Linked DNA regions of Homo sapiens. The protein of the gene in region 7 purifies or fractionates together with the protein of the main gene of each other region. This does not show direct contact. Each region holds a gene or a part of one and is shown on either strand. Other genes may lie near its edges. The genes, in order: GTF2A1, TKFC, PES1, ARG1, SERPINB12, SETD7 and BLMH.

What was found.
Region 1: the proteins of BLMH (region 7) and GTF2A1 fractionate together in Homo sapiens (co-fractionation; one large-scale study listed by BioGRID). This does not show direct contact.
Region 2: the proteins of BLMH (region 7) and TKFC purify together in Homo sapiens (affinity purification with mass spectrometry; one large-scale study listed by BioGRID and IntAct). This does not show direct contact.
Region 3: the proteins of BLMH (region 7) and PES1 fractionate together in Homo sapiens (co-fractionation; one large-scale study listed by BioGRID). This does not show direct contact.
Region 4: the proteins of BLMH (region 7) and ARG1 purify together in Homo sapiens (affinity purification with mass spectrometry, with the first as the bait; one large-scale study listed by BioGRID). This does not show direct contact.
Region 5: the proteins of BLMH (region 7) and SERPINB12 purify together in Homo sapiens (affinity purification with mass spectrometry, with the first as the bait; one large-scale study listed by BioGRID). This does not show direct contact.
Region 6: the proteins of BLMH (region 7) and SETD7 purify together in Homo sapiens (affinity purification with mass spectrometry; one large-scale study listed by BioGRID and IntAct). This does not show direct contact.

The regions. Positions count from the first base shown.
Region 1 is NC_000014.9:81,179,460-81,182,959, forward strand, and holds part of GTF2A1 (transcription initiation factor IIA subunit 1), read right to left. Parts: intron 872-3,500; coding exon 764-871; 3' UTR 1-763. UniProt on the Homo sapiens protein: TFIIA is a component of the transcription machinery of RNA polymerase II and plays an important role in transcriptional activation. TFIIA in a complex with TBP mediates transcriptional activity.
Region 2 is NC_000011.10:61,343,228-61,346,484, forward strand, and holds part of TKFC (triokinase/FMN cyclase), read left to right. Parts: intron 1-114; coding exon 115-231; intron 232-628; coding exon 629-748; intron 749-908; coding exon 909-1,046; intron 1,047-2,032; coding exon 2,033-2,139; intron 2,140-2,234; coding exon 2,235-2,338; intron 2,339-2,484; coding exon 2,485-2,518; intron 2,519-2,629; coding exon 2,630-2,719; intron 2,720-3,067; coding exon of another isoform or gene 3,068-3,097; exon of another isoform or gene 3,098-3,123; coding exon 3,124-3,257.
Region 3 is NC_000022.11:30,579,018-30,581,910, reverse strand, and holds part of PES1 (pescadillo homolog), read left to right. Parts: intron 1-266; coding exon 267-383; intron 384-502; coding exon 503-577; intron 578-809; coding exon 810-899; intron 900-1,209; coding exon 1,210-1,340; intron 1,341-1,732; coding exon 1,733-1,858; intron 1,859-1,975; coding exon 1,976-2,160; intron 2,161-2,607; coding exon 2,608-2,774; intron 2,775-2,893. UniProt on the Homo sapiens protein: Component of the PeBoW complex, which is required for maturation of 28S and 5.8S ribosomal RNAs and formation of the 60S ribosome.
Region 4 is NC_000006.12:131,571,975-131,576,025, forward strand, and holds the start of ARG1 (arginase-1), read left to right. Parts: upstream 1-1,251; 5' UTR 1,252-1,308; coding exon 1,309-1,365; intron 1,366-1,991; exon of another isoform or gene 1,992-2,318; coding exon of another isoform or gene 2,319-2,321; intron 2,322-4,051. UniProt on the Homo sapiens protein: Key element of the urea cycle converting L-arginine to urea and L-ornithine, which is further metabolized into metabolites proline and polyamides that drive collagen synthesis and bioenergetic pathways critical for cell proliferation, respectively; the urea cycle takes place primarily in the liver and, to a lesser extent, in the kidneys.
Region 5 is NC_000018.10:63,552,369-63,555,868, reverse strand, and holds part of SERPINB12 (serpin B12), read right to left. Parts: intron 1-3,500. UniProt on the Homo sapiens protein: Inhibits trypsin and plasmin, but not thrombin, coagulation factor Xa, or urokinase-type plasminogen activator. May play a role in cell differentiation.
Region 6 is NC_000004.12:139,549,720-139,553,219, reverse strand, and holds part of SETD7 (histone-lysine N-methyltransferase SETD7), read left to right. Parts: intron 1-3,500. UniProt on the Homo sapiens protein: Histone methyltransferase that specifically monomethylates 'Lys-4' of histone H3. H3 'Lys-4' methylation represents a specific tag for epigenetic transcriptional activation.
Region 7 is NC_000017.11:30,281,945-30,285,444, reverse strand, and holds part of BLMH (bleomycin hydrolase), read left to right. Parts: coding exon 1-57; intron 58-3,500. UniProt on the Homo sapiens protein: The normal physiological role of BLM hydrolase is unknown, but it catalyzes the inactivation of the antitumor drug BLM (a glycopeptide) by hydrolyzing the carboxamide bond of its B-aminoalaninamide moiety thus protecting normal and malignant cells from BLM toxicity.

The DNA.
Region 1 (3,500 bases), on a different chromosome or scaffold from region 7:
AACAAATTAAGTTTTTCTGTAAGGAAATTAAAGTTGTGGTTTCAATTCCACTGAACTCAGACAAGACCCAAGTCTTTAATTACATTTAATAAGTATGAAAACCTAATTAAAATAAATATTCATTCCTGGGTCAAATTTTATCTCCAAACTATGATCACTGATAACTTTAAATCTTAAATAGATGTTTCATAAAGCTGGAAAGGAAGAGGTATATATCACTGAGGGAGAATAGCAAGTAAAAATATTTAAGACCTATTATGAGAGTTTTAAATTGTTTTCTTATACAAGTGAATTAAAATTCAACACAATTCTTACCCTTTTGTAAAAAGCTCACACGCAACTTTTACCAAATATAACCACATACAATAAGCAGTTTCAGTTCAATCTATCAAAAGGGAAGTTTCTTCAGTTCATTCCAACAAGTATCTTCTGATTGAACCCAAGTTGGAGGAAGGAATATAGACAAAGCTTTACATGCTAATTACCGGTGGCAGGTACCTGTATTTAAAATCAACAATTATGGTTTTCCTACACAAAACCCCAACCCTCCCACCCAAAAACCCTAGGTGCTACAGTTCCATGGCTTGCCAGTAAGTAGTGTCTATGTTGTCAAGGTCTATCTTTGTTCCAGTAGCTTTGCTTCTACTGCACTTTTCTGACATGCAGAAACGAAGTTTTGGTTGGCATATGCCCCAAGTTTCAAACTGTCCGCTTTACATTTTTTTTAAGTTTCTTTTATTTATAAAAGAAAAAAAGCAACTCTTCACCATTCTGCATCTCCAATGGCTTTGGAAAATATATAATCTCTTCCATTAAGATTCATAATGCCATCCTTGAGATGAAATTTCCATTTGTTTTTACTTCTGTGTATCTAAACAAAAACAACATTTTAAAAATTGAGAGATACAATCAGAAAACAGAGAAAACAAGTAACAAAAAACCCATACACACACACACGTACACACACACCCCCCCACAAAACAGTATTTACAGTATTGTATTTGCAAATTGGTTTGTTTTTGTAGAAGAAGGGTCTCCTATGTTGTGCAGGCTGGGCTCGAGCTCCTGGCCTCACGTGATCCTTCTATCTCAGCCTCCCAAAGTGTTGGGATTACAAGCGTGAGTCACAGCACCTGGCCTAAAAATTGGTTTCTTAATAAAGTTTAATTTCACCAAAAAGAACAACAACAACAAAAAAACCACACACAAAACTCACTAGGTGGGTCTAAAAACAAATTTATCTGTAATTAGTACTATTTTATAGCTTTTAGTACTTGTGTTCATTAAAGTAGTTAAAAAATATTTCTTTACAAAATGTCTTATCTCTCTACCAGGTTTGCATATATATTTTCAAGGTCTACCTCAAAAAGACTATCCTCCACAAAGCTTTCCCAAATCTTACCAGCTAAAACTATTCTTTTCCACTGTTAAATTCCCAATGGTATTTTCATTGACATTTCTTACATTATTTGTAAGTAATACAATTATGGACTCATTTCTTCTACCAAAATAAAACTCCTTATAGAGTTCTCAAGACCTAACTACCATGGAACCTTATACATAGCAGTATTTTAAAAATACATCTAAAGGATGCTAATCATCCAGTCACTTACACCAGATTTCAAAAACTATGTACATCCACAGTTAAACAAAAAGAGCTGAAGGGCAGGCTCTGGGCACTCCCATCTTTGCCTTCACTTATAGTCCGTAGTTGTTTGTAATTCCATGGATTTGGTGGGGGAGAGGAGTTGTAAAACTTAATGAACTGAAGTGACCTTTCTTCCTTTTCCCAGTAAGTCACACTAATTATTTAATGTTCAAGTTCCACATCTTCTGCAAAGAAGGCCCCCTGGTTCTCCCTATTCTATGATCTAAAGGTACCTAAAAAAAAAAAAAAATCAACTAGTTCAGGCTTTCATTTTCAGAAGAAGAAATGACAGATTGGATAGGGTTCAATGGTTTGACCAAGTGTATACTGCTACTAAGTGACAATCATGATTTTCAAGTCTTGGTCCAGTACGCTTTTACTAAATCAGTCTGTTTCATATAATAATGCAGAAATGCTCAACAGGTATAGATATTTTCTTTTTCTTTTTTTTCTTTGAGACAGAGTCTCACTCTGTTATCCAGGCTGGAGTGCAATGGCACGATCTTGGCTCACTGCAACCTCCCCCTCCCAGGTTCAAGTGATTCTCCTGCCTCAGCCTCCTGAGTAGCTGGGATTACAGGCACTCACCATCACGCCCAGCTAATTTTTGTATTTTTGTAGAGATGGGTTTCACCAGGCTGGCCAGGCTGGTCTTGAACTCTTGACCTCAGGTGATCCCCCACCTCGGCCTCCCAAAGTGCTGGGATTACAGGCGTGAGCCACTGCACCCGGCCAGGTACAGATATTTTCTGAGATCTCATTCCTAAAATTCCATGGCCTAACCTCCCAGTGCAAACATTCTTCATGACATATTCCTGGCAAATGGTTGTGCAGTGTCTGCTTAAATACGATTAGAAACAGTGAGCAAAGAATTTCAAATTAAGTTATTCCTTTTTGGAACAGCTCTCTTGTAAAATCTTTCAGAGTTTACCCTTACGGAAATCTGCTTCTCCAACTTCCATTTATTGATCCTAGCTCTGCTTTTTGAGACTTAAAAAAAAAAAATCACTCAATCAAACAACCTTCATCTTATTTGGAAACTACTCTCATGTTCTTCTTCTGGATTCAAACTTTGCTTACTTATTAAAGCAAAACAAAGCACAATAAAGGTAAAACAGCAGGTAGGGTAAAGACTGTTGGATTAAGAACTAATTATATCTCTGGTCTAAATACACTACATAAATGCTAAATGTAGCATCTTAAGATTGATGACTTGAATGTCTAACGGACATACCAGACTTGGCATGTCCAACCAGCTCCACATGCAGCTTTTCCTCATCTGAACTGATGGTATCACCATCCTTCTTTCAGAATCCTCATCAAAAAATCTCAAGAGTCATTCTTGATTCCTTTTTCTTTTCTACCACAAATCTCAGAGTCAGGAAATGCTGTTAACATTCTTCCTTCAAAACAAATCCAAAATCCAACTACTTCTCACCAACTTTAATACCATCACCATAGGCCGAGTCATCATTATCTCCCATGTGAATTATTATAATATCCCCCTAAATAGTCTCGTTTCAGCAACCTCTGCTTCCTCCTCATATTATGCTCTCTACAAAGAAAGCAAAGTAATCCTTTCAAAATTTAAATCAGTTCATACCATTTGTCTCACTGAAACCTTCCAATAACTTTCTGATTCACTTAAGAGTAAGAGCCATGTCCTTACAAAATCCTTACTATCTGCCTTCCCTTACCTCTCTACCTACTACTGTACTCTCCTCTTCCCTCACTCCAGTCTAGCCACACAGGCCTCCTTGCTGTTCCTCACATACAACAGACTCTGCCACCAGATGACAGGGCTAACTCTTTCCAAGTCTTTGCTAAAATGTCATTTTCTCCAAAGACCTAC
Region 2 (3,257 bases), on a different chromosome or scaffold from region 7:
GGACATCTCCCTCCCGACCTCAGAGCCCCAGCTTCCAAGGTCCTTGCTTTTCTGTTGTTTTCTTTCCCTGATGCCCATTTTTCCCTTTTGGACTGCCACACTCTGGTATTGCAGAGGGCCGCGGGGTGAAGATTGCCCGTGCCCTGGTGGGCACCTTCATGTCAGCACTGGAGATGCCTGGCATTTCTCTCACCCTCCTGCTGGTGGATGAGCCTCTCCTGAAACTGATAGGTGAGACTTGGAACCTGGGGTCACCCAAGCCAGGGCTCCTTGTAACTGGAAGGAGCCAGGGAGACTTGGAGACCCCGTCAGGGCTGACCGTGACAATCAGGGCTCTGGAGCCTGTGAAGAAGGCTCTTCCTGGGCTTCTCCAGCCTTCTCCAGCTCTCACTGGACTAGAAGGAGTTGGTATTAGGATCCTCCTCAGAGAGGCCTGACCCTTTCCCAGGGACCCTCTCTCCATACCCCTGTATACAGTAGGCACTCAGTCCATGCTTGTCGAGGTGGACTCCCTTCCTCCAGGGCTGCTGAGAAAGCCAGGCCACCAGGGTCAGGATGGGAGGGTCCAAGCCCTGCTGAATCCCTGGCTGGACAGCCGTGTCTAAGAGAGTTATCTTGCTGCCCTTAGATGCTGAAACCACTGCAGCAGCCTGGCCTAACGTGGCTGCAGTCTCCATTACTGGGCGGAAGCGGAGCCGGGTAGCCCCTGCCGAGCCCCAGGAGGCCCCTGATTCCACTGCTGCAGGAGGTACCAACCCCTGCCTTTGGGGAAGGGACAGGCTTCCCAAAGGATGCAGGAGTATACGGTGGGGCGGGTAGGGGCCCTGGCACCCACACCTCCCACCATAGTCAAGTGTGGTTGTGAGAAGGGCCTGGTGGGCCTGTTCTTCAGCATCCTCCCTTTCTAGGCTCAGCCTCGAAGCGGATGGCGCTGGTGCTGGAACGGGTGTGCAGCACTCTCCTGGGCCTGGAGGAACACCTGAATGCCCTGGACCGGGCTGCTGGTGACGGCGACTGTGGCACCACCCACAGCCGTGCGGCCAGAGGTTGGTGCCAGGGACTTTGCCAAGTGAGGTCATTCACAAAACCTTAGCCCCCCTTCCACTTGTTTCCCTGAAGGCAGGGACCTTCCTTTTTTTTTTTTTTTTTTTTTAAGAAGGAATCTCACTCTGTCGCTAGGCTGGAGTATGCAATGGTGTGATCTCGGCTCACTGCAGTCTCCGCCCCCCGGGTTCAAGTGATTTTCCTGCCTCAGCCTCCTGACTAGCTGAGATAACAGGCATGCGCCACCACGCCTGGCTAATTGTTGTGTTTTTAGTGGAGACGGGGTCTCGCCATGTTGGCCAGGCTGGTCTCTAACTCCCCACCTCAAGCCATCCGCTCGCCCTGGCCTCCCAAAGTGCTGAGATTACAGGCATGAGCCACCACACCCGGCCGACAGGGACCTTCTTAACACCACAAATGTATGAGGTTGTTATCTTAGAATTAAATGAAATCCTTCACAGTGAATAACTTACAACTCAAGGCGAACTTATTCTGTTGTCCTTATTTTTCTCAGTTTACCCAGACCAGTGAAAAGCTCTTAACTGTCCAGCATCATTCATTCGAGAAAAAGGTATTTGGTGCCTGCCGTGGGGCAGGCACTGCTCTCAGCTGTGGATACAGTAGTGAACAGAGCAGACAGAAATCACTGCCCTCATGGCTTATGTTCTAGGTGGAAGACAGTCAACCAGATAAATCAGTAAAACACAGAGGATGTTAGCACAAAGGGCTAAGGAGAAAAAAACCAAGCCAGGGAGCAGAGTACAGAGCGTCAAGTGGAGGGCTTCGGGGCAGGCCTCACCTCCCCAGGCCCCTTTCGGTTACGCAGCCCAGCCCCTCTCCAGACTGCACACTGGATGTGGAAAGGGATCTTGGGAAGCCTTCATTCCACTTCCCTGTCGGCCTTTTCCAGCCTTCATTGGTGCTGGCTGGAAGTCTGGCAGATGGAGGGAGGATCTCTGAATTCCTCCCCATCTCTCTCTGCCTGCAGCAATCCAGGAGTGGCTGAAGGAGGGCCCACCCCCTGCCAGCCCTGCCCAGCTGCTCTCCAAGTTGTCTGTCCTGCTCCTGGAGAAGATGGGAGGCTCATCTGGGGCGGTGGGTGCCTGGGGGCTGAAGGGCTGACAGGGAGGTGGCTGGGCTGGCTGGGGTCCAGGCCAGCACCACATGCTCAGCGTTGTCATCTTCCCCAGCTCTATGGCCTGTTCCTGACTGCGGCTGCACAGCCCCTGAAGGCCAAGACCAGCCTCCCAGCCTGGTCTGCTGCCATGGATGCCGGCCTGGAAGCCATGCAGAAGTGAGCCAGAGCCCTGTGCATCAGACCAGGGGTGGGCTGGGGGAGGTGTTTGGTGACATCTGCGCCCTGCCAGGCCCTAGCCCAACCCTCAGAGTGATTCCCTTGGTTCCCTATAGTGAGCCTCTTTCACTCTCTTTCCCTGCCAGGTATGGCAAGGCTGCTCCAGGGGACAGGACTATGGTATGTACTCAGGCTGTGGCCTCAGACCTTTCTCCTTTTGGCCCTGTAAGTCTAAAGAGCACCCTCGGTTGCAGGGCCCGTGCTCAGCCCCCTTTCCTTCACCTTGTCCAGCTGGATTCTCTGTGGGCAGCGGGGCAGGAGCTCCAAGCCTGGAAGAGCCCAGGAGCTGATCTGTTACAAGTCCTGACCAAAGCAGTCAAGGTGAGTGAGGCTGGGCCCAGCCACCTGGGGAGACAGGCTTCTAGCCAGCAGACTCCTGTCTCCATGTGACCCTGAGCAAGTTAATAACCTTCCTGGACCGCAGTTTCCTTCTCTGTACAATGGAGATGAGCACCTATCTCAGAAGGTGGTTATGTGGCTAAGGAAATATGTAGAGCCCCGCACACTGCCTGGGATGTGACAGGGCCTCAGTGAATGGTGACCCTTTTCCCTGCTGGAAGTAGATGAGAAGTGACTTTCCATTTGGTGACAGAGCAGAGGGTGCTGGCAGAGCCAGGGCAAGGGCGTGCAGGGCCAGGCTGCACGGCAGAGACGTTCTGCCCATGGCAGGAAGGAGGCGGCCTGGTGATCTGCCCTTGAACCTGCTCCCACACCCCATCCCCCAGAGTGCCGAAGCTGCAGCCGAGGCCACCAAGAATATGGAAGCTGGAGCCGGAAGAGCCAGTTATATCAGCTCAGCACGGCTGGAGCAGCCAGACCCCGGGGCGGTGGCAGCTGCTGCCATCCTCCGGGCCATCTT
Region 3 (2,893 bases), on a different chromosome or scaffold from region 7:
GTCTGGCACTGACTTCCAGGATGCGTCTAACCCTTGGGACCCCTATCCAGAGCCTCACTTGTGGCTGGGAACACTTGTGGCCGGAACGCCCCTGGTGGGAAGATCCATGCCACCCCTTCCCTAGGGCAGCGCCTTAAGGGCAGAGCCTTCTTGAGGAGCTTGGGGTCTTTGGGTAGGTCAGACACCCTCCACTCTGTGGGTTGTCTGTCCCTCCTTTGCCCCCATCCCTGCACCCACACTGCTCATGCATCTCTTGTGTTCCCCAGCACCCGACAGACGTGGACTACAGGGTCATGGCCACCTTCACCGAGTTCTACACCACGCTGCTGGGCTTTGTCAACTTCCGCCTTTACCAGTTGCTCAACCTCCACTATCCCCCGAAGGTAGGACCCCAGCCCAGTGCCTTCTGCTCGCCGTGCAGGGGCCACAGCCCTTCTCTGTCCACACAGAGGCGAGGGGCTGTGGCTGTCCTCTGCCTCCTGACCTTCCCTTTGCCTACTAGCTCGAGGGTCAGGCCCAAGCAGAGGCAAAGGCCGGTGAGGGCACCTACGCGTTGGACTCCGAGAGTTGTATGGAGGTGAGAGGCTCCAGGAGCATCATCCGGCATCTCCCAAGGGAGTGGTCTCTGTCCCCAACACCTCTGGGGGTCTGGTTCAGAGTGGGGGTGGTTATGGCTAGGTGGGTGGTCTCAGCCTGCCCTTGGAACCCACACCTGCTGATGCCCAGGACTGTCACTGCTGCCCCTCCCCACCCTGGCCACATGCCCGCATGAGGTCCCCCACTGCAAGCAGCCCCCTTCTCTCCTGTAGAAACTGGCAGCCCTCAGTGCCAGCCTGGCCCGCGTGGTGGTGCCTGCCACAGAGGAGGAGGCCGAGGTGGATGAGTTTCCCACCGATGGGGTGAGCACTGCACTGCCTTCTGGCAGGAGGGCTGGGAGGGGTCGTGTGGGGGGTTTCCCAGCTTAGGGACATTTGCATCCTATAATTAGGTGTTATTTGATGGTCAAAGCAACTGAGCAGAAGAATGGGCTGAATTGTCATCAGAGTTTACATAGGAGGCAACAGAGCTCAGGAGTGGGGCCTTGGAGTTTCCTTTGAAGGCAGGATCCAGGATCTAGAAGGAAGCTGGAGTGGACGTTATCTCCAGCCCTGGCCCTCCAGTGGGGGTGGGCAGCCCTGGTGGTGCGAGGCCTGGCCCCTTTCTCAACAGGAGATGTCAGCGCAGGAGGAAGACCGCAGGAAGGAGCTGGAGGCGCAGGAGAAGCACAAGAAGCTTTTTGAGGGCCTGAAGTTCTTCCTGAACCGAGAGGTGCCCCGTGAGGCCCTGGCCTTCATCATCAGGTAGGGAGGCTCAAGGGCCCGCTGACAGCATTGGTTCGGCCATGCTCTGGTCTGGGTCCTGCCCTGGTGCCCATCGGTAACATTGGGATGGTGTCAGTTTCCACTTCTTATGAAACAGTGTGTGGAAAGTGCTCGGCACCGCACTGAGCACATAGGAAGTGCTCAGCAGAGGGCGGAACTGCCGTCATTTTATTACTAGCTTAGCACAGAAGGATGGGCAGTGGGCAGATCTCTGCTGAGCCAGGATTGAAGGATCCTGGGGTGAGGAGGGGGTAATTGTGTCCTAAGAGGGTGAGTTTATGGGCTGGGTGGCCAGCAGGTCCCAGGGAGCTGAGTCTCAGGACAGGCAGCTCATGTCTGTGTACCCGTGTGGGCTCTCCCTGTCCCTGTAGGAGTTTTGGTGGGGAAGTGTCCTGGGACAAATCTTTGTGCATTGGGGCCACCTATGACGTCACAGACTCCCGCATCACCCATCAGATTGTCGACCGGCCTGGGCAGCAGACCTCAGTCATTGGCAGGTAGGCCCTCAAGGGTCCTCGTCCGGATTTCTGGGTATCCTGTCTCAAAGGCCCTGCGATGCAGCAGGACCCTGAGTTGCCCTCTGTGACTCGTTTTTGCCTGCCACTCTGCGCCAGGTGCTACGTGCAGCCCCAGTGGGTGTTTGACTCAGTGAACGCCAGGCTCCTTCTCCCCGTGGCAGAGTACTTCTCTGGGGTGCAGCTGCCCCCACACCTTTCACCCTTTGTGACCGAGAAGGAAGGAGATTACGTTCCACCTGAGAAGCTGAAGCTGCTGGCTCTGCAGCGGGGAGAGGACCCAGGTGAGCGGGATGGGACTGGGCTGGCCTTGACCCCTGGGCCCACGCTGGCTGTTTCCCTTAGCTGCCAAGGTGGAAAGCTCCAGGGAACAGGCAGTAGGAGCAGAAAGCCCTTTGAAGTCACCTGTAGAATAAGGCTTAGGAGAAGGGACATCTACCTCCTGGGGTCAGGTGTTATTTGACGTTCAGGATGACTGAGCAGAAGAACATGCTGCATTGTCATCAGAGTTTACATTGGAGGCGACAGAGCTCAGGACTGGGGGTCTTGGAATTTCCTCTGATGGCAGCTGGGCTGTGGGGAGGTGCAAGAGAGGGCCACAATTGGGACATCCCTGAACTGCCCATGGCTAAAGACGGCAGGGTCAGAGAGGATGGGGCCTGGGCCTGTTGTCACCCTGCCAGAGAGACAGTAGATTCCCAGGGCATTCAGAGGACATTGGCTTTCTCTAGGAAACCTGAATGAGTCAGAAGAGGAGGAGGAAGAGGACGACAACAACGAAGGTGATGGTGATGAAGAGGGAGAAAATGAGGAGGAGGAGGAAGATGCAGAGGCTGGTTCAGAAAAGGAGGAAGAGGCCCGGCTGGCAGCCCTGGAAGAGCAGAGGATGGAGGGGAAGGTAGGGGGAGCTGCAATGCGGGGCTTGGCCTGGGAAGCAGCCCTGCTTGGTGCCTGCTCTGGCCTAGAAGGTCAGGAGCCAGAGGACTGTGGAGGTCGGGAGAACCTGCCCCCATAAGC
Region 4 (4,051 bases), on a different chromosome or scaffold from region 7:
AAAAGGTAGGAAACCTATTTGGAAAACAGTCCTATCAAAATGGACCCATGAGACTTTGGTTTCCTCATTTATCCATTCAATAAATATTTATTGAGTGCCTATTATACACCAACACTCTTCTAGGCCCTGGGGATACAGCAGACAAAATTCTCTGACCTCATGGAATTTAAATTCCAAAATGTTCTTTCCCACCAATAGGAAAAAGAAATTAGTTTCTACTAAGTGAATTTTCCCTTTAAATTACAATTACATAATTTTAAAGTCGGAAGGATCTTTAAGGTGCCTTTATTTTAAATTCATACTTTTGTATGGTGACAAATGGTAGCTCAGGGGCATAGAGGTTGACACCTTCCCAGCATTTAGACTATAAGCTCGACGGTTAAGTGGATTCAGAATGGCAGAGACTAAATCCCGACTTTTCTTCTACAGCCTATGTTGGCAACGGGTCTGAGCTTCAGTTTATTCATCAGTATAATGGCACCAATGATGAGACTTCACATAAAATTGGTATAAATATAAATATGGTATTTTGAAACAGAACTGCATCGGACACATGGTAAAAACTCAATGTTAGCTATTTTTATTTCTATACTTTGATTATGATATGATTCTACAATTATTTTCCTGTACACCATACTTCAAAAATGGTAACCTCTCTGGGTTACCAATCAAGTAACTAATTTTTTAAAGTAATCATCAAAAAAGGAAGTTATATACTCTTTATTATATTATACCCTAAAAGTTTATGAAATGTGTCTCATGGATTAACCATTTACCCTCATGTGTGAAATCTCAACTCAGGATTTTAGGGCTGGAAGGGATGTGACAGACGATCTTGCCAAGCCCGGCCCTTCTTCTACAAGGACGTCTTCAGAGATCTGGAGGAGGAAAGGGCCTTGCCCTGAGTTCGCTGAGCCAGAACAATAGGACTTCTTCTGTAGTTGTGAAACTTGTCAGTTGTTGAAGTCAGGTTAATGTCATCTGGCTGGCTTTTTAAAAGGGTGTGAAGTGAGAACATGAATAATTGTCACTTGATTAGAGACCTAGACTCAGAGTTAGGTTACTCCATGTATGAAGTAACCCCATATAGTTACTTCATACATGGAGTAACCATATAGTTACTCCATGTATGAAAAATTGCAAGACTGTTGACTGTCATTCTTTGGTTTAGTGGGTGGAGCCAGCTGTCCTCATTAGATAAAGGTTGTTTATTCAACCCAAGTATAAATGGAAAAAAAAGATGCGCCCTCTGTCACTGAGGGTTGACTGACTGGAGAGCTCAAGTGCAGCAAAGAGAAGTGTCAGAGCATGAGCGCCAAGTCCAGAACCATAGGGATTATTGGAGCTCCTTTCTCAAAGGGACAGGTAAGGAAAAAAGTCTTTCTTTGAATTCCTGGAATTTAGTTGAAAATTTTGGACTTCAAAATTTGTAAGGTGTTATTGTCTAGTTAGTTCAGTTTTCTGATACAATCTGGCCAGGAAATGCATATTTTAAAGTCCTCTCACCATTTTCCAACATTGTATAATTATAGTCACATATCCACTTACTTTTGTGGCTCGTGATCTCAGCCAAGGCTAAATTCATTTGAACCTACAGAATGTTTTCTCATATTTTTTAGGAGAAAATATTTTTCTTTGAATTGAAATGGACTCTTTCTGCATTGTAGCTACTCATTGAGGTTTAGTTGCTCTTGTTGTTTTTGATGTTACTGTGTGTATGTAGAGGAAGAGAGAATTTTAAGAAATACATTTGTTTAGTTATGTAATTAATGCCTAGAAAAATTTAATAGTTTGGTGGTAACCTTCAGGCTTCTTATAATTTGGATAACCTAAATATTATTGTTTCATGCAACTTTGTGAATAATTCATGTTATGTTAGGGTTTTAATGTTTCTATGAAACTGTTCATTCATGGACTAGGTAGAATCCTTTATGTGCCTCACTTGGAAGGGGAAAAAAAGAACAAAAAAAGAAAGAAAATCCTACTGCGGGTTGGCAACTCTAAAAGGATTTTAATGGATTTATGAAACCCCCAGATTTCCTTACAGCCACGAGCTGTGAATCCACACATGCCAGCAACATTGAATACACTTTTTTTTCTGCCTGGGCACACTTATTCTAGTAAAGAGAGTGTGATGACAGAACACCTTAGACTTCAACACGCATCTGTGCTTAAAGAGGATAAAAAACAAAGAACAAAATCAAACAAGACAATGTATGAGTTGAAACTACTAAGGTTGATTTTCTCCAGGTTTCTCAGGATCTGGGCAGCGTTTTGCTTCCTCTTAATTTGGAACCCTTGCTGTGTACTCTGACTTTTTACTGCAAAACAAATTGAGAGAGGCCAGAGGTTAGAGGCCCAAACTGCATTTGGACTGTCAGTAAATACTACTTTGCTTCCCCTGGAAATCCTCCAAAAGTCTCTCCCAAACACAGGGACATTTTGCTGACACAGAAATGTTCCTTTTAAAATCCACACTGTTCTCACCCACTCTTGAACAGGTTATAATAAATATATAATTTAAAAACCTCACAAAAGGGAAGCAAGTGTCCTCCTTCTACCACCCTCCTCCCATTAAAACATGGTCATGAGAATGGAGTTCATTGTCTCATGATTGTAAGGACTAAGAGAGAGAGATTTTTTACACTAAGTCATAGAGTAGAGAGGATAAAATGGCCAACATATAAGTATTTGTCCTCACCTAAAGGAGGTACAAGTTTGACAAATAAGCAAAAGGAAAGGATTAGAGGGCAGATGACTAAAATGTTGAGTCTGAGAAAGGGCTTCATCCCTGTCTCACCTCCTTGAAAGGCTTGCAAGGCAGCGAACAAACAATAAGGTAGGTATTATTTTTACCTTACAGTTGGGTTAAAAAAAAGCCCAGAGAGGTTTGGTAATGTGCTCAACGTCACACAGCCTTGACTGCATAATTCCAGACAAGATAATCTGATTCCAATGCCTATGCCCTTGATTTGCACTGATGTCTCTTCAGACTATTCAACTCCAAAGGCGACCTTATACTTGTGGCCATTTAGGGATTGGGCCCAGCTTAGAAAGTCGGTGGAGCTGACAAAGCAATTTCCAAAGTGGGCAGATAGAGCAAGCAAGAGGAAAGCCCAATCATGAGAAGCCATTTGAATAAAACAAATAAAAAAGAATTCTAGAAAATTTAATGGCTGTGTTATAGCAAATATAGTGTCAACTAAGGGGTCTATGAGCTTTGTTCTAAAATATGAAAGGGAGAAGGGTAAAAAAGCCAAGGAGTTTTATCAAACTGAGTATTGAGTATCTACTATATGTCAGCTCTACACTACAAAATATAGTGCCCCACATGTAAAGCAAGCTGGACTGAAATCTAACAATGAGGAAAAGACAAAAACAGACACAAAACTAAAGGCAAAACATGAACCAAGCAGCACCCTATTGGGGTTGAAAGAAGGAGAAATCATGTTTACTTGATTGGGGAGAGGCAGGTGTGTCAAGCAAAAAGGGAGTAAAGAAGCAAAATGTGTCAGGCAGAGGATAGGGCGGGTCCCTTGCTGCCAGGGACAGGAATTTAACATCAAGGATTTGCCTGGCACCCAGGGCAAGTCTTCTGTTCCTTTGAATGGGGAAAAAATACTTGCTTACTTTGATGCCACAGCCCCAATCCTAAAGATAGACACACGTGTCTTTTAACACATTGTCTCATCTGACAACATGTAATAATCTTCTGCATCTAAAAGCTCTGTTGGAAATTAAAATCAGAAAGATACAGAAAGGAACTGTGCCTTTAGACCTCTAATTGTTCAGGGGACTGAGGAAGACTTGCCCCTTGGAGGAAGAGTGTTAGTTTCCCTAATGTCAAAACGGCAAGGGTAGAACTTCCCATCATACTGTTAAGCAGGCCAAAACTTGAAATTACTGGGTTGGTCTTTGTTTGTAGTTTTCAGCTCCCAGATGATGACTTTTTCTGTTGCCTGCTTTCTCCCCAAGAGCTCTAGCTTACTTATGTGAGTACATGCACGTAGGTCTCTTTCATGTCACACTCTTTCGATGCTTTTGCCCAATC
Region 5 (3,500 bases), on a different chromosome or scaffold from region 7:
ATTCTCCCATGGTTCTGGGGGACAAACGTCCAAAATCAAGATATCAGCAGATTTGGTTCATTTCAAGACTCTCAAGGAAAATCTGTTTCATGCCTCTCTCTCAGCTTGTGGTGGTTGCCAGCAAACTTTGACATTCCTTGACTTGTAGACAAATCACTCAAGTCTCTGCCTCCATCTTCACATCCTTCTCTTTATTGTCCATGTATGTATCCAAATTTCCCTCTTCTTTTAAAGACAGCAGTCACTGAATTAGAGCCCATCCTAAGCCAGTACAACCTCATCTTAATTTGACCACATCTGCAAAGACCCTATTTCCAAACAAGGTCATATTCACAGGTAGAAGGATTAGGACTTAAACTATATTTTTAGGGGACATAATCCTACCCACTTTGTGGTGGAACTCCCTGTATTCACGTAAAATGAAGCCAAAGGCTAACATTCTTATTATCAAGTTAGCAGCCAAGCAAACATCATCCCATCTCATTCTTCTCCACAGATTGTGGCTGGTTCTGCTTACACCTTTTGCCTGTACTCTCCCCTCATTGCTCTGTGACTGAGGATATGCCCAGCAAATTCCCATGGGTCATGTGCCTTGTTAACATTCTCACCCCCTTTTGACTCATCCCACATGCAAACTACAGAATTTGAGGCACTTTAGTCAGTCATTCATATTGTTCAAGAGACAATAAATCTTGAATGATGCTGGGGGTCTTGATGTCACCAGGTGTACTAGTCCATTTTCACACTGCTACAAAGAATACCAGAGACTGTGTCATTTATAAAGGAAAGAGTTTTAATTGACTCACAGTTCCGCATGGCTGGGGAAGCCTCAGGAAACTTACAATCATGGCGGAAGGAGAAGGAGAAACAAGTACCTTCTTCATTAGGCGGCAGGAGAGAGAGAGAGAAAAGGAGGAACTGCCAAACACTTATAAAACCATCAGATCTCATGAGAATTCACTCACTATCACAAGAACAGCATGGGGGAAACTTCCTCCATGATCCAATCACCTCCCACCAGGTCTCTCCCTCAACACGTGGAGATTATGGGGATCACAATGTGTGATGAGATTTGAGTAGGGACACAGAGCCAAACCATATCACCAGGTTCAATGTCCTCTTTGACAGTGTAGAACTACAGATAATATAGAACCAGAGTGAGATAGTGACTTCCTAAGAACAGGTATCTTGCCTTCCCCACCCAATCTATTCCAGAGTATCAAGAGAATATGTAGATCTCACCACTGACCTATGCCTTTCAAATGAAATGCCTTTTCTTTTGTCTCTTTGCCTATAGATATTGTGTATTTCCAAGATAGAAATGTAAATCCTCTTATTTGTGCTTTTATCATCAGATACAGCACACCATAAGCATGAAGAAATATTGCTGCATTGAATGGAATGGTGTAATTTGTTTTAACACTTTCCCAGTTAATATAGATTTTCTTAGCCTATAAAACCTAATTCAAAAAGATAACATTATGTAACTTTTTAAAAAATGTGTCTAACATGTGCCAAATATCTTACATGTGTTAGCTTTAATCCTACAACTCTGCAAGGTAGATATGATCATTCCTTCTTTTTCAGAAAAGAAAACTGCATAATCAAATAGCACATATATTTGGCCCCAAACTAAGTAATCTTTCTACTGTATCTATCGTTTCTAAGTTGCCCCTCAACTGATGATAGGTGATCAAACACATGCCTGCTGTATGTGGGTACTCTCCCCCCTTATTCAGCTTATAGTCCATTTTATTGCTACATTTTCTTTCTGCCAAGTTTGTACCTAACTCACAGTTCTTATCTTGCATCTGGGAACTGGGTTTGAGACGTACTTTGTATTTTCAAACTAATTTCAGGGTAATCATAGATCACCAGAGTGTTTTCAGGAGCATTATGCCTTAATTGGTGGGTGTTTTTTGAGTAATGGATGTCCTGGATGTATCTGGAAATTCAATAATGCCTCACAACTCAGAAAGCTACCTTTGCATATGTTGGTAAACATCTTGATGTCCAACAGATTTTCTCTACACATAGCTCACATTACCCATCTAGTAACAAGTCTACTAACAAAGAAAAGAAAACCAACAAATTAAAGATGGTCTGAGTTGGGGGGATTTCACAGGCTTTCGATTAATGATAAAATTTTGTGTGAAATGTAGTCTAATATTTTTTAAAACCTTTGTTGTATAACTTAGGTTAATGTTTGATCAAAATCTTCAGCTCGAAGGAGGAGAAGGTAAAGGGAATCCTGGCAATTTGGCCATCACTATTAAAAGAAGACAAGAGCCTGACTATATTGAAGGAAAAGAAGGGGTTGGTTAGAAAGACTGAATGATCCCAACCTGGCTCTTCAAATGTTCCAGTTAATCACTTGGCTTCACCCCTTCTGCCTTCTAGCATGAGCACTCCCAGAACTGAATGATCAGAGTCTTGCCTGCTTTAGAAAGGACATGACTACTCATGCAGGCCAACTCCCTACTTCTCAAGATAAAAAAAACTGAGGCCAAATGAGGCGAAGTGACTTGCAACAATCATGCAGCTGTCCAGAAGCAAAGCAAGGCTAAGACTTCCTCATGCCTAGGGCTGCTTCCTCCTAGATCACACAGTTTTTCACATTCCATTCCATTCTAATTCTGGCACTACACTTACTCACTCTGTGGGCTACAGAACACTCCAAAACTCTCTCTGCCTGTTTCTGCATCAAGCTTCTATAAACTTTGTGAACTACTTTCCAGGAGTACTGTGATGCTCTCACCCCAGTAACAATTCCCTTTTCTGAGTGTTACCTGGTTCTAAGCTTTCATTACAGTTGTGTGCAGCTTTAATGCTGCCTCACCTCCCAAGGGAGTTGAGAGAACAATAGTAACAGAAAACAACGAAAAAAAAACAGCTGGACAGTTGCTGTTAAAGTTTTATGACTATATGTAAGCCCTTACAATAGGAAGATCTTTCCTGGCTTTACATACAAGTCTAAAACATAGCAAATAATGAACATTTAATGACTAGATTAAAATGTCATCTGCTAACCACCTTCTGAAGGGTTGCTTGGTTATTTTGGGGGGTGGGGGTGAGTCAGTTTTTTTAAATTAGAAACTGCCTAAATCTGACACCAACCTAATTATGAAGTTCTCCCACTGGGTTAGTCACTATATATAAAAGATGAACTGAACAAGACACAATCTCTGCCTTTGAGAAATCTATGACCTAACAGAGCAGATAATGCATTCGCAGATTCAGGAGTAGAGTTTAAGACGCATAGAAGAGTAAGATATTAATTTACAAAATGAAATAGAAAAGGGAAAAGAGTATTTTGTAGGAAGCACTCATTAAGATTTGATTATGCTAATAACACAGATTCAAATAGGCAATTTTAAAATATAACACTTTAAAAATACTTTAAAGCTTTTTAACATTGCTTTTATTTATTAAAAATAAGCTTAGACTGTTAGTAAAAATCATGTTATGTTATGTTGTTGCAATTAAAAAGAAAAGAGAAA
Region 6 (3,500 bases), on a different chromosome or scaffold from region 7:
TCTCTGTCAGGGTATGATTGTAACTCTGGGAAAGTTCTGAACTCAGAGTGGACAATTCCCTGAGGTGAGGGGAGTGGCGGAGGCTGTGTCGAGAGAGTGTTCTGTGTACTGTGTTGGCTGTGCTCTTGTGGGAAGAAGGCAGCAAGCCCTGGGCCTCAGAGGACCTCAGAGCTCCACCTGAGCTCTGGTGTGGCTTTTGGAAAACACTTTGAGACACACTGGTTCAGTGAAGAGTGATGTTTAGTTTTCCAGTGTTATTCCCCTGGGCATCTGGAAACAGAAATTTATCACAGCATCTATTTCTTTGTCTACCCATAGATACAAAGATGAATATGATGTGGTCTCTAATATGATTTCAAATAAATATATCTATACAGATGAATTGTGATGGTTGAGAGGAAGTAAAAATTAGTTCCAGCTTAGGGAAGTCAAAGGGGAAAGATTTTCCAGAAGAGGTGCCATAGAGCTGAGTCAGGTTGAGAGGGGAACTTTGTGAGTGAAGACACGGAGGCATGGAATTCTGCGGGTGCACCCAGAGAACAGTCATTTGATTTTGCTGCAACATGGAGCTTACAAGGAGAAAAGTGGAGGGGAAGACAGGGAAAGGAGGCTGGGTAGCAGGCTGAGAGCATGGACTGTGTGCTGGAAGCCATGGAAGCCGTGGGGGCTCTTTAGAAAAGGGAATGACAGGATCAAGGCTCCACTCCGGGAAGAGGAACAGGCAGTGGCCAGCAGGACAGTCAGAGGGGCTGACACAGCAGATGAGGTACCTTGAAGTCTCTTTGCAGTGGTCCAGATGCACAGTTATGATGGCAGGAAAAACAGAAGGGCCTGGAAATGTGTAGGAGACATGGAGGAAGAATGATCAAAAAGGGGAAATATCAGAACAAGGGGCCAGAATGAAAATAAGCAGCTCAGTGTTCCACTGCCACAACCCCTTCAAAATATTAAGAATATTTTTTATTAACACTCCCCCTAATATCAGATTCTACTTGTCTCTGCTAAGAGTGCTCATGCCCTGTATCTAGGGAAAATGCATATGAAGTGTATTTGTAGCACCCTTTCTGTGTGGGCCACACATTAAAATCATGACCCTCACAATTAATAGATGAACCCTTGCCAACAATTACCCTTAAAAAAAATTATCCAGGTAACAAACTTTCATATGTACCCCCGGATCTAAAATAAAAGTTGAAATAATTTTTTAAAAACCTAAAAAATTAAAAAATTTTAAAAAGATCAAAACATCAAGTTATGTTTTTAAGAGTTGGTGATTGAATGCATCACCAGGAGGGCATGTTCTTTGCATTAAACAGAATAAGCTTGCCTTTTATTATTGTTGTTTTTTGTTTTTCAATTTATTTATTTATTTAATGAGATGGGGTCTCACTGTATTGCCCAGACTGGTCTCCTGGGCTCAAGAGATCCACCTTGGCTTCCCAAAGTGCTGGGATTACAGGCATGAGCCACCGCGCCCGGCCTATTAATTGTTGTTTTTTAAAGCAATGTTCTAGTGTACAAAACCAACAGTGTGTGCGTAGGGTCTCTGGTTCTAAGGGAAATACTCACACGCCACTCTCAGATCTCTTGTGAGTAAGCCTGAGACATTAAGCAGCTGGGTGTCTGATCCAGAGGGAATTTACTTTGCTGAGATTGAGATGTACATTGCTGCTTAGAATATAGGCCTGGCTCTTATCAGATTCAGGAAGAAGCTCCCTCAGAAGTAACTAGAGGGGAAAATTGTAACTTTCTATCTGTTCAATAGATAATGACCATAGAATAAAGTGAAAAAGTAGACTTGTGAACTGATACTTTTTTCCTTTCTCTAACTTCTGTAAATATTTAAAATCATGCTACAGACAGATACACAGAACATTAGCTCCGGCAACCTTAAAAACACAGAGCAGTCATTCAAGTTAATTTTCCCTGTTGCTTGGGCCTGGTATTCACCCTCTGTTCAGTGGGAACTCGCCTGGAAGGCTGTTGGCTGACTTGGCGCATTTTACAAATTGACCTCATGCAGAGCAAGGAGGACTAGTGTTTCCCTTCAAGTTAGATAACACTTGGAAGAGATAGGACTTTGCAACCGGGACATGCTGTTGGAAACCTGGTGGTTCTGTGTGAATGATCTTAACCACAAAGCCTTCTTCCACTTCCCTGCCAGGGACCTGGGGGTTCCTACCTTTTTAGAGGTACCTTCTTACCATCACCAAGGAAGAGTGTGTTCAACTAGTTTGCCAGTGTCTAGAATGGGAATTAAAGGATTTGGAGAAGGGGCTTTCAGTATTCATCAGCACACTCAGTGTGGCAATGTCTCTTGGGCAAGTCTCATAAAGCATTGGTGTCTTCATCTGTAAGATGAGAATATGGGAGACTGTTTTGAGGCTTACATTTGATAACAGGAAAGCATATAACCCAATGCCGATCATAGTAGATTCATACACTTTTTTTCTCCTCTGTTTATCAGTACCCCTGTGCATTAAATTGACTTACTGACATGACAAAATATTACATGATCTTATTGTCCAAATATTAATGATCTTATTGGCATTTGAAAAAGTTATGTCAGATTCTGTTCTAGCACTAATGTTGAAAGAAGATGTAAGAGCACTGCAACCTAGTCTCTTCTCTTTCTCATGGAAAGTCTCTGTTATTGTTTTGGTTGTGGCTGCTGTTTTAGACATAAAGTTCTACTGCTAGGAAAACTAATCCGGGATATTAAATATTCAGAGTGGAAGTCTCGAATGATCACAACCCTTAATCTCTAGTTCCTTTAATTGATCACACCCTAGGGATGTAAAGAAAACAAAACAAGCCAGGAAGAGGCTCCTGCTGTCGTCGAATAGATTTCAGAATTCTCTCACAACCAGCAATCTAAAAGCCTTCAGAATGATAGGGAGTGGTCACATGTCCAAGCACCTCCTTAATGTGCAAGGTCACCAGAGTAATGGCCATCATTTGGTAGCTCTCCCCTGACCTTGTCTCTCCCAAGAGATTAAGATGATGATAGGGCTCCTCTTCATTTGCCTGTTGAAAGGCACTGAGGCCAGGTGTGGTGGTTCTTGCCTGTAATCCCAGCACCCAAAGTGGGTGGACCACTTGAGCTCAGGAGTTTGAGACCAGCCTGGGCAACACAGTGAGACCCTATCTCTATAAAAAAAAATTTTTAATTAGCCGTTTTGGAGGCTGAGGTGGGTAGATTGCCTGAGGTCAGAAGTTCGAGACCAGCCTGGCCAATATAGTGAAACCTCATCTCTACTAAAAATACAAAAAAATAAGCTGGGCTTGGTGGCAGGTGCCTGTAATCCCAGCTACTAGGGAGGCTGAGGCAGGACAATTGCTTGCACCCGGGAGGCGGAGGTTGCAGTGAGCCAAGATCGCACCATTGCACTCCAGTCTGGACAAAAAGAGTAAAACTCTGTCTCAAAAAAAAATTTTTTTTTTTAAATTAGCCAGTTGTGGTGATGTCTACCTATAGTCCCAGCTACATTGGAGGCTGA
Region 7 (3,500 bases):
CACAGTGGAGCAACCAAAGGAGAAATCTCGGCCACACAGGACGTCATGATGGAGGAGGTAATAACAAAATTTGGATTTTTTTGTGACCCCTCTAAGGAACTCTCAGAATATTCCCATCTGTTAAAGTAATGATTAGGAAGCTTTAGTCATGGCAACGAATGTTTAATTGAATTGAAAATTACTTATTTTACACTGAAAAAACTGAGCTTAAAACTTACTTTGCCTTTTAGTGTAGGACTTGGACTTGGATTTTCTAATTCGTAGTTTAGTGGTCTGTATAATCATTCTTTTATCATTTCATAAATATTAAATACCTTCTATGAGTTTGGCACTGAGGAAACAGATGAGAAAGACATAGTCACTGCTCTTAAAGAGCTCAGTCTCTTGGGAAAAAGAAAACACATCTATAATGATGATAAATCCTATGCTAGATGTGTAAAAACTGATTTGGTGGTCATAGAGGAGGGAGTGACTAGCTCAGTGAGCTGAAGCTTTCATAGGGAAGATAGCTCTTGAAAGAGTAGTCAGAATTTACCAGGTAGATAACAAGACCATTCTAGGCAAAAGGAATTGTATGAACAGTGCCATAAACAAAGATAGAACCTTCAGGGAATCATGTGGCTGAAACATAACTTTTTTCAGTATGATGGGTAGCAAATTAAGCTAGAAAGGCAGAGATGTAAGGGATGTTGGATCGATGCCAGAACATTTGGCTTCTTTCTGTAGAAATAAAGACGGAGCTATTGATGGTTATATTTGTTAATGTATGTAAAAACATTTTAGAAAATGTAAAAAGCACTAAAATATGAGGTGGTAATATTATTTATGATCAAGACAGTTAAGAAACTTTATTATTAATACTATCCATGTCCAGAATGAATATGCATAAAACTGCAATTGGTTTGAGGAAAGAATAAATGTTTCCGTTTGTCAGCCAGTAGGCCCTTTATTAGGCTTCCTTTCAAGACTGTATGGAGTTAAAATGGCCTACTTTTTTTCACTGCGATGGAAAACACTAATGCTTCACTTGTGTTTTCCTTTAAATCTTAGAGATGCAGCATAGTGGAGCAGTGGAGTGTGTAATCTCTGAAGTCAGGCTATCTGAGCTCTAGTCTTCTCATTACTTTATATCCTGGGACAAGTTCCTTAAGCTCTAAAGGCTCAGTTCATATTTAACATGTCTAGCCTAGTGCTTGGCACAATAGCTGTTTCTTAAGTATTTGTTGAGTGGACGAATGCAGAAATTTCATTTACCAAATGCATTTAAATAATCTCATTTTTATCTCTTAAATTCTTACAGAAGAGAGGCATCTTAGTATAGTAGGAAAAAATAGGCTTTGGAGTCAGACATACATGGGTTTAAATTCTGACTCTTTTACTTAACAGTCTGTGATCCTAGGTAAGTTACTTAACCTGTCTGAGATTCAGTCAGGATCTGAAATATTTTCCTTATTGGATTTTTGGGGAATCAAGGATTAAATGTAAGCATGCAAGGCATAGTGCCTGGCACGTAGCAGGAGTTCTGTAAATGTTACTTCTTCCCTTCTTGCTTGGAATGACTGTCTTGCAGAGGCTATATCTGCTACATAATTTGCCTTTATTTAGGGTTAGATTAAGATGGTGGGGGCCAGGCACGGTGGCTCATGCCTGCAGTCTCAGCACTTTGGGAGGCCAAGGTGGGCGGATCATAAGGTCAGGAGATCAAGACCATCCTGACCAACATGGTGAAACCCCGTCTCTACTAAAATACAAATAATTAGCTGGGCGTGGTGGTATGCGCCTGTAGTCCCAGCTACTCGGGAGGCTGAGGCAGGGGAATCACTTGAACCCAGGAGGCAGAGCTTGCAGTGAGCCGAGATTGTGCCACTGTACTCCAGCCTGGTGACAGAGTGAGACTCCGTCTCCAAAAAAAAAAAAAAAAAAAAAGATGGAGGTATAGTAGGAATGAAGGTTCTGCAAACAGTTGTGGAAAAGGGCCCAGATAATACTTGCTGTAGATAATAAGCATCCTTTTGGCTTTTGATGTTTGCTTTAATGATCTTTGAACTAATGATGTGTCTAAGATTGATGTCCTCATCATTGGTAGAGCGTGGTAATTGGCTGGTAAGAATTAGGGCAGATATGTTTCACATATTTTTTTCCTCCCCTACTCCTGCCTCAGAGAAATAGTAGATCCAACTTTACCAAATCCTGAGTATGAATGTTTTATAGGATTATTTACTTAATGATTCTACCTAAACTATTTACTACAGAATTCTGTGTGTAAGGGTTTTTTCCCCCTTAGAGACAGAGTCTTGCTTTGTTGCCCAAGCTGGAGTGCAGAGGCGCAGTCATAGCTTACTGTAACTTTCAACTCCTGGGCTCAAATGCTGCTTCAGCCACCCAAGTAGCTGGGACTACAGGTGCATGCCACCATGCCCAGCTCATTTATTAAAAAAATTGTGTAGAGATTCAGTCTCACTATATTTCCCAGGCCGATCTCCACCACCTGGGCTCAAGCAGTCCTCCCACCTTAGCCTCCCAAAGATTGTGCATATTATAAAGTGTGAGCCGCCATACCTGGCCCTGTGTATAAGGTTTTAAAATTTTTACAATCCCCCAAATGACTTCTTTTCATTGAACCTGACTCTTTGGTAATGAAGAGTCTAGCTGCAGTTTTAAAGCCCCAAATTAGTACCTATGATTTGTGTAACCTTGTAGGCAAGTCAAAATGATGGCTTAATCAACAGCCGTGAAGCTCAGATAGCTTTGAATAAAATGTGTTTATGCTAAAGGCATTCTTACTGAGAAGTGAGACGCAGGCTGCTTGTTGAGATGACAGGCAAGGCAGATCTGTTTTGGAGATGTGTAGTTACCTCTATTGCAATGTTATCTCAGTGTCCATTTTTTTAGCCTGCGGATCCCCTTAAGATTATTAATGTATTCTCAGTTGGGCGCAGTGGCTCATGCCTATAATCCCAGCACTTTGGGAGGTCAAGGCAGATGGATCACTTGAGGCCAGGAGTTCAAGACCAGCCTGGCCAACATGGCAAAACCCCGTCTCTACTAAAATACGAAAAAAACATCTGGGCATAGTGGTGCATGCCTATAATGCCAGCTGCTTGGGCAGCTGAGACACAAGAATCACCGGAACCCTGCAGGTGGTGGAGACCAAAATTGTGCCACTGCAGTCCAGCCTGGGTGACAGAGCAAGGCTCTGTCTCAAAAAAAAAAAAAAAAAAAAAACCTTGTCTGTTAAAAAGCAAAACATAGCCAGGCATGGTGGTAACACTTGTAGTGCCAGCTACTTGGGAGGCTAAGGCAGATCACTTGAGTCCAGAAACCCAGGAGTTCAAGTGCTACCTGGGCAACCTAGTGAGACCTCATTTCTAAAATCAATCGATCAGTCAATCAAAGACCAAAACCAATATTTGTCAGTGCCACAAAAAGGGAAAAGAAGCCTTTATGATTGACTTAGGAAATTCTATAGCAGTGGCTGTCAGCTATTGAAAACAATATAT